Linked DNA regions of Homo sapiens. The protein of the gene in region 3 purifies or fractionates together with the protein of the main gene of each other region. This does not show direct contact. Each region holds a gene or a part of one and is shown on either strand. Other genes may lie near its edges.

The links.
Region 1: the proteins of RPP40 (region 3) and NPM1 purify together in Homo sapiens (affinity purification with mass spectrometry; 4 studies listed by BioGRID and IntAct, with this or other methods). This does not show direct contact.
Region 2: the proteins of RPP40 (region 3) and RPP38 fractionate together in Homo sapiens (co-fractionation; one large-scale study listed by BioGRID). This does not show direct contact.
Region 4: the proteins of RPP40 (region 3) and RALY fractionate together in Homo sapiens (co-fractionation; one large-scale study listed by BioGRID). This does not show direct contact.

Annotation. Positions count from the first base shown.
Region 1 is NC_000005.10:171,404,843-171,408,358, forward strand, and holds part of NPM1 (nucleophosmin), read left to right. Parts: intron 1-459; coding exon 460-561; intron 562-1,554; coding exon of another isoform or gene 1,555-1,563; exon of another isoform or gene 1,564-2,283; intron 2,284-2,857; coding exon 2,858-2,932; intron 2,933-3,516. UniProt on the Homo sapiens protein: Involved in diverse cellular processes such as ribosome biogenesis, centrosome duplication, protein chaperoning, histone assembly, cell proliferation, and regulation of tumor suppressors p53/TP53 and ARF.
Region 2 is NC_000010.11:15,102,550-15,104,991, forward strand, and holds the end of RPP38 (ribonuclease P protein subunit p38), read left to right. Parts: intron 1-755; 5' UTR 756-765; coding exon 766-1,617; 3' UTR 1,618-1,708; downstream 1,709-2,442. UniProt on the Homo sapiens protein: Component of ribonuclease P, a ribonucleoprotein complex that generates mature tRNA molecules by cleaving their 5'-ends. Also a component of the MRP ribonuclease complex, which cleaves pre-rRNA sequences.
Region 3 is NC_000006.12:4,997,371-5,001,138, forward strand, and holds part of RPP40 (ribonuclease P protein subunit p40), read right to left. Parts: intron 3,262-3,768; coding exon 3,193-3,261; intron 2,535-3,192; coding exon 2,439-2,534; intron 1,472-2,438; coding exon 1,346-1,471; intron 1-1,345. UniProt on the Homo sapiens protein: Component of ribonuclease P, a ribonucleoprotein complex that generates mature tRNA molecules by cleaving their 5'-ends. Also a component of the MRP ribonuclease complex, which cleaves pre-rRNA sequences.
Region 4 is NC_000020.11:33,996,905-34,000,644, forward strand, and holds part of RALY (RNA-binding protein Raly), read left to right. Parts: intron 1-3,740. UniProt on the Homo sapiens protein: RNA-binding protein that acts as a transcriptional cofactor for cholesterol biosynthetic genes in the liver. Binds the lipid-responsive non-coding RNA LeXis and is required for LeXis-mediated effect on cholesterogenesis.

The sequences.
Region 1 (3,516 bases), on a different chromosome or scaffold from region 3:
ACCATTGAGCACTGAGTGAACGAGACTCTGTCTGCCCTGATTTCCTTTTTTGAACTGACTTAGTACTGTGCATAAAAGCAAACTCCCAAGTTACTCTTTTTTTTTTTATTTAAAGAGATGGGTGGCCTACTCTTGCCCAGGTTGAAGTACAGTGGTATGATCATAGCTCACTACAGCCTCCAGCTGCTGGGCTTAAGCAATCCTCCTGCCTTAGCCTCCTGAGTAGCTGGGATTACAGGCATGCACCACCATGCCTAGCTAATCATCTTATTCCTTCCTTAAAGGAAAGATTTTAAGAACAAAATTATATGGCGTGAATTTATTGATGATAATTCCAGTTGTATAATTAGCTTTATAAGGGAGTTTTGTGAGAATATTTGAGGAAATCCAGATAGAATGGGTTTTAATTAGGAATTGTATTTATTCTTATGACCTTTTGGAAATTCATTTCTTTTTCAGGGACAAGAATCCTTCAAGAAACAGGAAAAAACTCCTAAAACACCAAAAGGACCTAGTTCTGTAGAAGACATTAAAGCAAAAATGCAAGCAAGTATAGAAAAAGTGAGTAAAGTTATCTTAAAAAAACTTTGTCTCCCCCCTCAAATTGCACGTGTCTGGTTTGCATAGACTTGAATGTTTCTTGTTTTTTTGTTTGTTTTGGTTTAATATACTTGCCTGGTTCGTGGTATGAATTTTTTCAAAAATTTCTTATAAAACATTTATAATCGTGTCTGTGGTGATTTTTGCATATGCAAAATTAAATATGCCTTATTTTCCATTATGCAAGGAACGTAGTGCACTGGTTGCAAGATAACATTCTGACCTTCCATGTTAAAATAGATCAGTGAAAACCCTTTGCCTATTCTGGTTGTAAGATATGCTAGAGAACCAACAGAGGGCGTATGAGACTTCATTAAAATTACAAACAGCTGGAAAAGTAGATGCTGGCTGTTGCTTGGTATTATAGTTAATATTCATGATTGACCCTAGTCAGAAGTGATTTTCAGCAGATTGAGACATTTCTCTTTGCCCTTTACACCAAGTTGTCACCAGTTAATACATGTAGTAATAGCTAGATTTCGTGAATGACTAATAGGCTTAAATCTAGTTTCCTTTTGTCTTAAATAATGGAAATGTGGGAAGAGGGTTAGGTCTCTCATCTGCTTGACTGGGGGATTTGAGTAGGATATGGAATAAATGGTTTAAATGCCTTGGAAGCACATTTGAGAGAAGCTTTAATTCTATGAATAATACTTTTAGACTCCAACTATTGAGAGCAAATGTGGGGTGGTGAAAAATTGCCAACTCATTTCCCCATGTTTTTCTTGTAATCTATAGATTTTTCGTGGCTTCAGTAGATTCCTTGTACAGTGATAAGTCCACTGGAAAAAGAATTTTAGAACTGGAACATATTTCTTTTAGTCACACTGTAAACCCTTTAGCCTTCCTGGTTATCACTGATTTTTGTCCCTTGGATACAATGCTAAAATGACATCTTTTAGATGCCCCTCCCCTCCATTTTAATATGGTCCTATCTCCTTGGTTTAATTGCAGGCGCATTGAACAGTCCTGGGCACTACATGTAAATTAAGCCCAAAGATGGGGAGAAAGGAAAAGGAGAGACAAATATAGTCCATACTGAGTGTCATCAACAATCCAGACTGAAGTCTTCTATTTTAATCTCAATCCCCTTTTCTGATTTGCCACCCATGCCTCTTCAGGCTGGAAACAATCTCTTGGTTCCCTAAAGCACTTTCTTCTGACTGCTGTGATTCAGTGAACCTTGCCCTTTGCTTTCTATTACTTGTGCATTTGCCTCACCTGACAATGTTTTAAATCGCCTTTGTATCTCCTTAGCTGCTCAATAAATATTTGAATGCATCAATTAAGAATGTATGTGACAATAATTTTGAAATGGAAATTGTGAGGTTTATTTTACTAGGTTATTGGAGGCAGTTAAGTTTCTTAATGCTATACCTGATTCTGCCAAAGTCCCTTGGACATTTGAAAACCTTTTCAATCTTTTAAAAATGCATAAAAGATACTTAGAGGGAAAGGTATTAATTAAATTTAGTAAAAACAAATATATTCAATGCTTTAAATTCCAAAGTAGTGATAAATACAAACATTTCAAGATATTTGCAATAGTAATGTTTTGAAATTTTGGTTACAAAGTCACAGGTCTTGCCAATACTGTTGTAGTTTCTTGCCTATATCCGTAATTTGAAGGAAATGGTGAGAGTGATTAGAGAAGTGTAATTACTGTAATTTTTTCCCCTATTGTAGTTTCTTGCCTGTATCCATAATTTGAAGGAAATGGTAAGAGTGATTAGTGAAATGTAATTACTGTAATTTTTTCCCCATTCAACTTTATATATCTTTAACTGATGACCAGATCATTGTTGTTCTGAACCAGTTTGTGGTCAGCAAGTGTTTTGTGGGGTTTTGTTTGTTTGTTTTTAAAGAACAGTTTGGGTCACTTGACATGGTTCTCCAAAGGGATGTTATGGGTTGTATTTGGTTCTGGGTGATAACCGACTTGTTAGATAATTTAGATAAGCAACCGAGTTGCCATGTTTGTTTGTCGAATCTCAAGTGTAGCTTATATTTTATGTTCCTAGAGAGGTTGTCAGGGAAGATTTGACCCTTTGGCAAATCTGTTTGAATAGAGATACTAGCCATGCTGCCCAATAGGGCTTTCTGGCCCTGAAAAAGATACGGAGTATTCTTGGAAAGTTGAAGGGAAAAAGAATAAACTGATCCATGTAGTAGCATGCAGATTATTGAGGAATTTTCTAAAGGTATCTCTCTCGGTGTATTTCTCTACTTACCTGTAATAATGCTTTTGTCTTAATAGGGTGGTTCTCTTCCCAAAGTGGAAGCCAAATTCATCAATTATGTGAAGAATTGCTTCCGGATGACTGACCAAGAGGTAACTGGATTTTCTGGGGACATGATTAAATCCAAGTTTTTTTGTGATTTATTATGATTCTGCCTTTACCCTTTTTAAGTGTTGGCTCTTTTTAAAAAGTTCCTAACCACAGATAATATTTCATTTAATGAAATACCTGAAAACTCATGTATTTAATGAAATGCATGAAGAATACAGTTGGCAGTCTGAGATGATAACTTTAGTATATTTTTCCCAGATTTCCTATAGTTGGTAAATTATTTCTTGGTTATTGAATTCAGTTTTACTTTTTTGGTACTATGTTGGTTAAGGAAATTGCTGTGGTTTTCCTTGCTGTTCCATTTGACTGCTTGGGGCAGTCTGGTCTTGGCTTTTTTGGGAGTTGGTAGAGATCTTTTTTTTTTTTTTCCTAGATCTTATGGGAAATACATTATGCCAAAATCATCCTAACATGAAATCTGGAAGCAAGACACTAAATTGTGGCTACTACCAGATACATAAGCTTGAGTTAGCTGTTAGATTTTACAGTTAGTACATGTGAAAGTCTTAGTCAACATAAAGATTATGCATTTATTTTTGCTCTTATTTACAGTTGACTCATAAGT
Region 2 (2,442 bases), on a different chromosome or scaffold from region 3:
GTTAGAAGATTAATACCATACAGTCACTAGAAGGTTAATTATGAACAAGTAGAAACAGAATATTTTTAATAAATGAAATAGACAAATGGAATTGTACTATGATTGCAATAATTAAAACTTTCACATATTGCTTGTATAGGAATAAAGACAAAGTCATATAAAAAAATGGGGAAAATTAAACACTACTCACCCATAGTCCTGAGTATTTTAAAGAGCCTTCGTAGAGCATTCAAAATCGGGTAAGAAAAATGGGGAAAAATAAAATTACTTAATCTTTAAAAGGAAGACAAGCGTATGCTCACCTAATTGGACTTATATAATCAGGCTTGCTCTAGCTTATCCAGAATCAGAGTACAGGCCGGGCGCAGTGGCTCATGCCTGTAATCCCAGCACTTTGGGAGGCCGAGGTGGGTGGATCACCTGAGGTCAGGAGTTTGAGACCAGCCTGGGCAACATGGTGAAACCCTGTCTCTACTAAAAAAAAATAGAAACATTAGCTGGGCTTGGTGGCGGGCGCCTGTAATCCCAGCTACTCGGGAGGCTGAGGCAGGAGAATCGCTTGAACCCAGGAGGTGGAGGTTGCAGTGAGCTGAGATTGTGCCACTGCACTCCAGCCTGGGCAACAAGAGTGAAATTCTGTCTCAAAAAATAAATACATAAATAAATAAGAATCAGAGAGTACAGTCAAGATATTCTTAAGTCATGCAGTTGTCGCTAACATGAATTTTTTCTGTTGTCATTTTGCTTCTTGGAAGGATTTTCAAAATGGCTGCAGCTCCTCAAGCACCGGGGCGGGGATCTCTCCGTAAGACGAGACCTCTGGTTGTGAAGACGTCGTTGAACAACCCATACATCATCCGCTGGAGCGCTCTGGAGAGCGAGGATATGCACTTCATCCTACAGACGCTTGAGGACAGGCTTAAAGCTATTGGACTTCAGAAGATTGAAGATAAGAAGAAAAAGAACAAAACACCTTTTCTGAAAAAAGAAAGCAGAGAGAAATGCAGCATTGCTGTTGATATTAGTGAGAATCTGAAGGAGAAGAAAACAGATGCTAAGCAGCAAGTGTCAGGGTGGACGCCTGCACACGTCAGGAAGCAGCTTGCCATTGGCGTTAACGAAGTTACCAGAGCCCTGGAAAGGAGGGAACTGCTGTTAGTTCTGGTGTGTAAATCAGTCAAGCCTGCCATGATCACCTCACACTTGATTCAGTTAAGCCTAAGCAGAAGTGTCCCTGCCTGTCAGGTCCCCCGGCTCAGTGAGAGAATCGCCCCCGTCATTGGCTTAAAATGTGTTCTAGCCTTGGCGTTCAAAAAGAACACCACTGACTTTGTGGACGAAGTAAGAGCCATCATCCCCAGAGTCCCCAGTTTAAGTGTACCATGGCTTCAAGACAGAATTGAAGATTCTGGGGAAAATTTAGAGACTGAACCTCTGGAAAGCCAAGACAGAGAGCTTTTGGACACTTCATTTGAAGATCTGTCAAAACCTAAGAGAAAGCTTGCTGACGGTCGGCAGGCTTCTGTAACATTACAACCCCTTAAAATAAAGAAACTGATTCCAAACCCTAATAAGATAAGGAAACCACCCAAAAGTAAAAAAGCTACTCCAAAGTAATCTTGCATAAACTTGTCATGTCATACAGTTTGTGAAAGGACACCTTGTAAAGAAGCCTTGAAACTAATAAAATGAGTTATACTTACATAGATTCATAGGGTCCTGTTTGGTAATATTCAAATGTGTAAGACTCTTTGTAACTATGGCACAGATATACTAAGTGCAGGAAATATTCAAAATTAGGAATAGCCAAACAGACATTTATTGAAACTAGTGTTCATGCGTGTGTAAATTGACTTTTTCTTTTTCTTTTTTTTTTTTTTGAGACAGTTTCACTCTTGTTGTCCAGGCTGGAGTGCAATGGTGCGGTCTCAGCTCACTGCAACCTCCTCCTCACGGGTTCAAGCAATTCTCCTGCCTCAGCTTCCCAAGTATCTGGGACTACAGGTGCGCACCACCATGCCTAGCTAAGTTTTGTATTTTTAGTAGACACGGGGTTTTACCATGTTGGCCAGGATGGTTTCCGTCTCTTGACCTCGTGATTTGCCCACGTCAGCCTCCCAAAGTGCTAGGATTACAGCTGCGAGCCACCGTGCCTGGCCTTTTTTTTTTTTTTTTTGAGACAGAGTTTCGTTCTGTCGCCAAGGCAGGAGTGCAGCGGCGCAATCTCGGCTCACTGCACCCTCCACCACCCAGATTCAACGATTCTCCTGTCTCAGCCGCCTGAGTAGCTGGGATTGCAGGTGCCCACCACCACACCCAGCTCATTTTTTTGTATTTTTAGTAGAGATGGGGTTTCACCATGTTGGTCAGGCTGGTCTCGAACTGACCTCGTGATCCACCTGCCTTGTCCTCCCAAAGTGCTGAGATGACAGACGTGAGCAG
Region 3 (3,768 bases):
TTGGAGCTGGGACTCCCTTCTTCCCCTGCCCTTGGACAGCAGAACTCCAGGTTCTCTAGCCTTTGGACTCTGGGGCTTGCACCAGCAGATCCACAGGTTGTCAGGCTTTGGCCTTGGACTGAGAATTATACCATCTTCTTTCCTGATTCTCAGGCCTTCATATTTGGACTGAGCCAGGCTACCAGCATCCCTGGGTCTCCCACTTGCAGACAGCCTGTCGTGGGACTCCTCAGCCTCCATAACTGCATGATCAATTTCCCTAATAAATCTCCTCTCATCCATCCATCCATCCATCCATCCATCCTATTGGTCCTTTCTCTCTGGAGAACCCTGACTAATACATTTTGGCTACTACCATTCCTCTGAGGAATTAAGTCCTGTGTCTCTGACCCAGGGCTTATGTGTCTTCTGCCAGCATCCCTGAGACTGTAGCAGGCTACCTAGTTAGCCTGCAAGTATGAGGAAATCTCAGAACTTTCACAGTCCTGACAAATCCTTAAAATAGTTAGGAGCTTTAGGAATAGGGAGCTATCCAGAATCCAACGTCTGGATGATCTGCATAGAAGACTTCACGCAACTGAAACTTCAATAAGCCTTTCTGCCCTCTTTTCTATCTACCATATATGGAAGGAGAGGCACCGAAGGCCAGACCTAGGACTCATGGGAGCAACTTGGAGCACCCAGTGACGAGACACTTCCCATGAGGAGCAGACAGATGGGGCTATTTCTAAAACAGACCACCATGCTTCCTATCCTCCAAAAGAGAGTACTACACCATAATTCCTGATGACTTGATCCATTATTATCTGGGTCAAAGATACACTTCTAAAAGGAGCAACATACATGGCCGTTTTAGGCAGATTACGCTGTGTGGTGAATAGCAAACTTTGAACTAAATTTAGTGTCCTAATCAATTAAAAGTTAGAATAAATTCATCTGACATTTAATGGTAGGCCTGAGTCAGTACCCTGTGATAATAAATAAGCAGATTGTGTATATAATTGGTGCTACTTAAAAATATTATAGTCAAGGCTGTTCAAGGTAAGCTGGAGAGAGGAAAGGGGAGAAATAGATAAAATTTAGCTGCTCTGAAGCCACTCTCAAGATCTCTGGATCTACATATAACCCAAAGAGACGCAGGCAGAAAGGCCTGCGTGCCTACATGATCCTGAACTATGGTTTTCAGAGATGTCAGAAGGGCTAGTTTCCTTAATAATATTTTTATATATACGTATAGAATATTCCTTGACTAAAGAGTGAATCACCATTCAATCCTCCATTACTCCTCTTTAATTAACAATTACTTTCAAAATCACTGTATCATTACATAATTTATTCCTCATACCTGTTTTATGCCAAGCCAAAAGAAAATCAAATTTCAATGGCTTCTTTTCTTTGAAAGACCAAGATATTCTTTCATACTTCTTAGAATCCAAGTTTAAGGATAATTCCATCAAATCAATGGAAACAACTTTAAAAATGAAAAAAAGAACATATATTTCATTCATATACGTACAGCTTCTACCATGGAAAAAGTGTTACATTTTTAAAAACTAGAATTTTGGGAAATTTTATGGATAGTAAAATTATTTTATTCTTCTTCCACTCCCTTTGGTTTGCCAAATAAATAAGATCCCTTTGGTGGGCACTTCTAACCTTGAGAGCTAATAAAAACAGACATTTTCAATTTATATGTTTCCTAGGTCAAAGACCAAGGGCAGAGGACCTTGAGAGGTCAGGTTTAATCTACTTATGGATGTGGCGGCCTTAGCTATTGATGTTCGAGCCAGACGCTGTCAGCAAAACATCTCTTCACTCATGGGTGAATTTCTACTAGTAATCATAAAGACTTGGGGAAACCAAAGGAAATTCTTTATTAAGAATAAGTTGTAGACTCCTATCTTGGGTTCAGTACTTGGAATTTTTTTTTTTTTTTTTTTTTTTTTTGAGATGGACTCTCACTCTGTCGCCAGGCTGAAGTGCAGTGGTGCGATCTTGGCTCACTGCAAACTCCCCCTCCCGGGTTCAAGCAATTCTCCTGCCTCAGCCTCCTGAGTAGCTGGGACTACAGGCATGCGCCACCACGCCCAGCTAATTTTTGCATTTTTAGCAGAGATGGGGTTTCGCCATGTTGGTCACAATGGTCTCAATCTCTTGACCTCATGATCCGCCCGCCTTGGCCTGCCAAGGTTTAACCCGAAACATATATATTTAATTGACCAGTCCAAGTCTACAATCTTTATTAAATGCATCTACAGCTGAAAAGAAATGAACTTAAAAGCATCATCCTATCCTCTGTGAAGCTCGAGTCAGAAGTTTGACAGATTTTTTTTAAAAGGCCACATTTTTTTGAACAAAGAGATTAGAGGCAATTCAAACATTTAAATTTAAATTGCCACAAGAAGATTAGAAACAGATGGAACACACATGATACTTACTAAATTTCATAATTTTTCTGCCAGAAAACTGAGATGGATGACCCTGAAGTCCAGTTTCTTCATAAGTGTCTTTATCCAGTGACAAAATTAATTTCCCTATAAATCAAATAATAACTCCCATAAGATACCAAAACTAGAACTTACGTTGTCTGACTAAAAGAAAGCAAGGCAAATTGAGCAGTTAGATATCAATGTAACAAACTGCATACAAGGATCTTATTTATATCACAAGAATATTATTTATGTGTATACATGTCTTGTAACAGATATTATTTATACATTATACATCCAAGGATATTATTTATAATAGTGAAATTTAAAATAATCTGAATTTCTACTAAAGATGAAATAAATAAGTCATGGTATACTCATTCTTTTGAATATCTTCTTTTTTTTTTTCAGACAATCTCATTCTGTCTCCCAGGCTGGAGCGCAGTGGCGCAATCTTGGCTCACTGCAACCTCCGCCTCCCAGGTTCAAAGCGATTCTCCTGCCTCAGCCTCCCAAGGAGCTGGGACTACAGGCATGAGCCACCACGCCGGCTAATTTTTGTATTTTTAGTAGAGGCAGGGTTTCACCATGTTGGCCAGGCTGGTCTCGAACTCCTGACCTCAGGTGATACACCTGCTTTGGCCTCCCAAAGTGCAGGGATTACAGGCGTGAGCCACCGTGCCCAGCTGACTTTTTTTTTTTTTTTTTTACAGTATGCATTTTTTTTTAACAATTAAAGAAAGATGAAAAAATAAAGTGTTACCATTTGGTAGCAGGGCAACAGTATTATCTTCATCAATATGTGTATTGTATGTTAGTGCATAGCAAGAACCTGGAAGAGAAAGTACAGAGGAAAAATTTAAAACAAGAAATTACACCTGCAAGATGTTAGTGGATTATTTTTACAAGATAACCAGTCTTCCGGGTCATTAAAGGTCAGTTTCTACCCCTGCTCCAGCTCACTCAATAAACCAAACATCTGCTAAGGGTAAGCTGCAGCATGCAGAAGACCAAGCATGCAGAAGACCAAGCATGCAGAAGACCAAGCATGCAGAAGACCAAGCATGCAGAAGACAAAGCTTGCAGAAGACCAAGCATGCAGAAGACCAAGCATGCAGAAGACCAAGCATGCAGAAGAACAAGCATGCAGAAGACCAAGCATGCAGAAGACCAAGCATGCAGAAGACCAAGCTTGCAGAAGACCAAGCTCCAGCTAGTTCACTCCCTGACCAACAGCCTATTTGTGCAAGTTTACTATCATCAAGCAAAAAACTGACTCAGAACGGAACGTGACCTTTGGGGATGCGCGGAGAGGGGTCCAAAGTAGAATTCTAGATAA
Region 4 (3,740 bases), on a different chromosome or scaffold from region 3:
GCACACTTAGTGTCTTCTTTAGTCTCAGAGTGCATTGTAAATGCAAAATTATTAGTCCTCACCTGCAGCAGAGATGTGGCATGCAGCTCCAGGGCAGGAACCCAGGCCTCTCTGAGTAAGACCTACTTTTCTCCCCCTTAGGTTGATGTTCTGTATCACTGAAGCCTGTTTTGAATCTCTGCTGGCCCCCCAGTATCTGCAGAAGAGACCTTATACCCTGTTTTTTTTGGAGACGGAGTCTCACTCCGTCGCCCAGGCTGGATTGCGGTGGCACGATCTTGGCTCCCTGCAACCTCAACCTCCTGGGTTCAAGGGATCTCTTGCCTCAGCCTCCCGAGTAGCTGGGACTACAGGCATGCACCATCACGCCTGGGTAATTTTTGTATTTTTAGTACAGATAGGGTTTCACCACGTTGGCCAGGCTGGCTTCGAACTCCTGAACCTCAGGTGATCCTCCTGTCTTGGCCTTCCAAAGTGCTGGGATTACAGGCATGAGCCACCACGCCAGGCTATTACACCCTTAAAATAGAACCGAGATAACTCCCCACCCTCACCTTGTTTGCACCTGCCCTTCTGACAGTCCAGGGTTTGGGGATATTGGGCTGCAGTTATCAGGAATAACAGTGCAGTGACAGCAGCTTGGATCAAAACTACTCAGAATGATTAAGTAGATCACCTTTATGAAATGTTCCCTCTTTCTTCCCCCTTTTTCCATAGAGGCACACAGGAGGGATTAGCTTTTGGGTTCTTGGAGGATGTTTATGGATACTCACTGCTTGCAGTTGGTTAAGATGGAGTTAGATGCTGCATATAGCCTTTCAAAATGCCCTTTGACCGTTTTCTGTGTTGGTCCATTTAGGGGAGTGGGCTCTTCATGTTTATGAAGATGGTTGGAATATTGTCCTGATAACAACTGGGGGTTGGGAGAGGCAGTGTCTCAGAGATGGTTAATAGGGTAACAAACACATGATCATGTGTCTGGTCATGTCACACTCTCCTTAAAAATCTGATGGCCCCAACATTGCCTGCATATTAAAGTTCAAACAAATATGACCCATGAGGTCAGTGTGTTGAATTTATTGAATAGAATCTTGTAGTTGAGGGACCTTACAGTCATTTAGACCAGCCACCTGGCTGACATTTGAGTTGGTTACTTGTTGAGATTGTCTTTCTTTGGATACCTCATTTTTGGAAAGTTTTTCATTCACTGAAGAATTAATGAGCCTCTGTTAGACCTGGTGCTACGCTTAGGGATTTGGGTTTGTATAGCGTAGTGGGAAAGATAGGCAAGGAAACAGGCAGTGTGAGAAGTGTTGTCACAGGGACAGACACCAGGAGAGCACAGAAAAATGATGCCTAACCCAGCATTGGAAGGTCAGGGAAGGCTTTTTAGGAGGAGAAGTTGGTTAAGCCTAGCCCTCAAGAGAACAGACATAAGCCAGGAAAAGAAGAGATCTGGGGAGTCAGGGAAGAGGCAGAGATAAGACTGTTCTAGGTAGAAGGAACAGTAAGTTCAGAAATGGTGATAATAGGTTAAGACCATCCCGAAAGTACGTACTGTTACTATTCCCATTCTGTAGTTGAAGGAAACGGGCCAAGAGAGCTAAACAAATTTCTCAGGATTCTTGGGTGGAGCATAATGCTTGAGGTGGGTGGATATGGCCAGACAGGAGACTTTCAAGGTAGGCAGAGCAGAGGCCAAGTCAGGAAAGGGCCTTCTTGCCTGTGTTGAGGAGTTTGGACTTCATCCGGAGGTGAGGGGGCCATGATTCAATGTGCATTTTGGAAGGATATCTCTGGCTGCCTGTTCAGGAGCGGACTGGAGAGCTAGAACACTGTGGGCAGAGAGACCAGTTAGGAGGTTGGCAAGAGGTGATGGTGTTTCAAATGAAGGTTGTGGGAGAGCGTGTGCAAGAGTGTGTGCAGAAAAAAGATGGAATTGCTGGGCGTGGTGGCTCACGTTTGTAGTCCTAGCACTTTGGGAGGCTGAGGTGGGTGGATCACCTGAGGTCAGGAGTTTGAGACTAGCCTGGCCAACGTGGTGAAACCCCGTCTCTACTAAAAATAAAAAAAAAATTAGTCGGGTGTGGTGGCAGGCACCTGTAATCCCAGCTATGTGGGAGGCTAAGGCAGGAGAATCACTTGAACCTGGGAGGTGGAGGTTGCAGTGAGCTGAGATCGAACCACTGCACTCCAGCCTGGGTGTGAGACTCCATCTCAAAAAAAAAAAAAAAAAAGGAAAGAAAAAAGGTGGAATTGAGTGATGAGACAAAGATTATTGGTGTGGAGGGTAAGGAAGGAATCGGGATGACATCTGGTTTCTACCTGGTGCAGTTTTGTAAATGGGTGCTGTTTATTGAGGTGAGGACACAGGAGAAGAAGGAGCACGTAAGGGAGGGGGTAGGGTTTCTTATGCAGGGTCTCCTTACATATGCTTTCACTTACCTCTGGTTATGGATTCTAGTTCTTTGTGTCAGGTCTGAAAGGGAGAGAGTGAGAGTATGGCACAACTGGTCATGTTCCTGGCTAAACTGGATGATGCAAACATTAGTTTAGGAAGAGAGGAGATATTCAATCCTAGACATCCGGGTGTGGCACAGCCTGGAAACTGCTTACGTTAAGCCAAGAAAAGTTTACATTTTATCCAGGCTACATCCTTTGGCACTGGTCTTTTCGTGTACTAGTGTATTCCTAAGTCCCTCTCTAAGCCGAAGCCACTTCTCTGCTTACTCTCTGCTAGGCACTGGGAAAACAAAGATAAGTAAAACGTATCCTAAGGAGCTCATGATCCAGAAGGGCAGAAGTCTCAGTAGCTTGGATACAGCGGTGGCCTGGGGAGAGGGTGGATGGGGCAGGGCAGGGTAGGACAGGATGGAGAGGGACCCGGAAGGGTTTCTATTAGGGATAGGAGTCAGGAGACCCCACTGTGTGCTCCAGTCTTTTTCTCGGGTGGCACGTGTCTAGGTTTATTCATCTGAATAATGACTAGATGACCCATAAGGTCCCTTCTAGCAATTACATTTTATGATTCTAGGTGGTGGTTTAGATAATATATCTCTAGGAGAGGTATTTCTTTCTTCTTCTCCCCCTTCTTAGTTTGGCATTGGTGAGGGGATATAGTAGGGGTGGAGATAGCAAGGTTTTCACTTGAGTGTCTTGGTCTTATTCAATTTTGGCTTCATGTCTATATAGCTGGAAGGGAGAAAATGACAGCCGTAATGTTAACCTGCTTGTCCTACAACTTCCCCCTGGGTACTGTAAGGAAATTGTGCTCAGGGTGCAGCTCACAGACCCTTAGGAATAGAGACAGAGTGCAGTGGAATAAATAGGAAGTCTTGTCACTAGCCTGAGCATCGTTTGGTCAGTGTGTGGGCTGGACTAAGGTCCTTTCTTTTTATAGCCCTGTTTCCTCATAAAATCATCTGGGGGGGTCCCTGAAATTCTATAAAGGCCCAAAGAGTGGGGGTGGGGAGGTAGGGACAGAAAAAGGGTTGGAGGTCCCTGTCTCTCTCACTTCTCCCCTCTCTTCGAACGAATAAGTAGAAGCAGGTATCTGGCCAAGTATTAATGTTGGTCATCTTTTGTTTCCACAGCCTTGCCTTATTTCCTCAGTGTTAGTGTCTTCTGTCATTTCATAATGGCTTTCATGGTAATCAATGTCCTGTACCTCCTGGGAGGAAGGAAGGAAAGATGGGATATTGTCCCTGGGCTCTAGTCTCCATCTCCAGAAGAGCCATTTA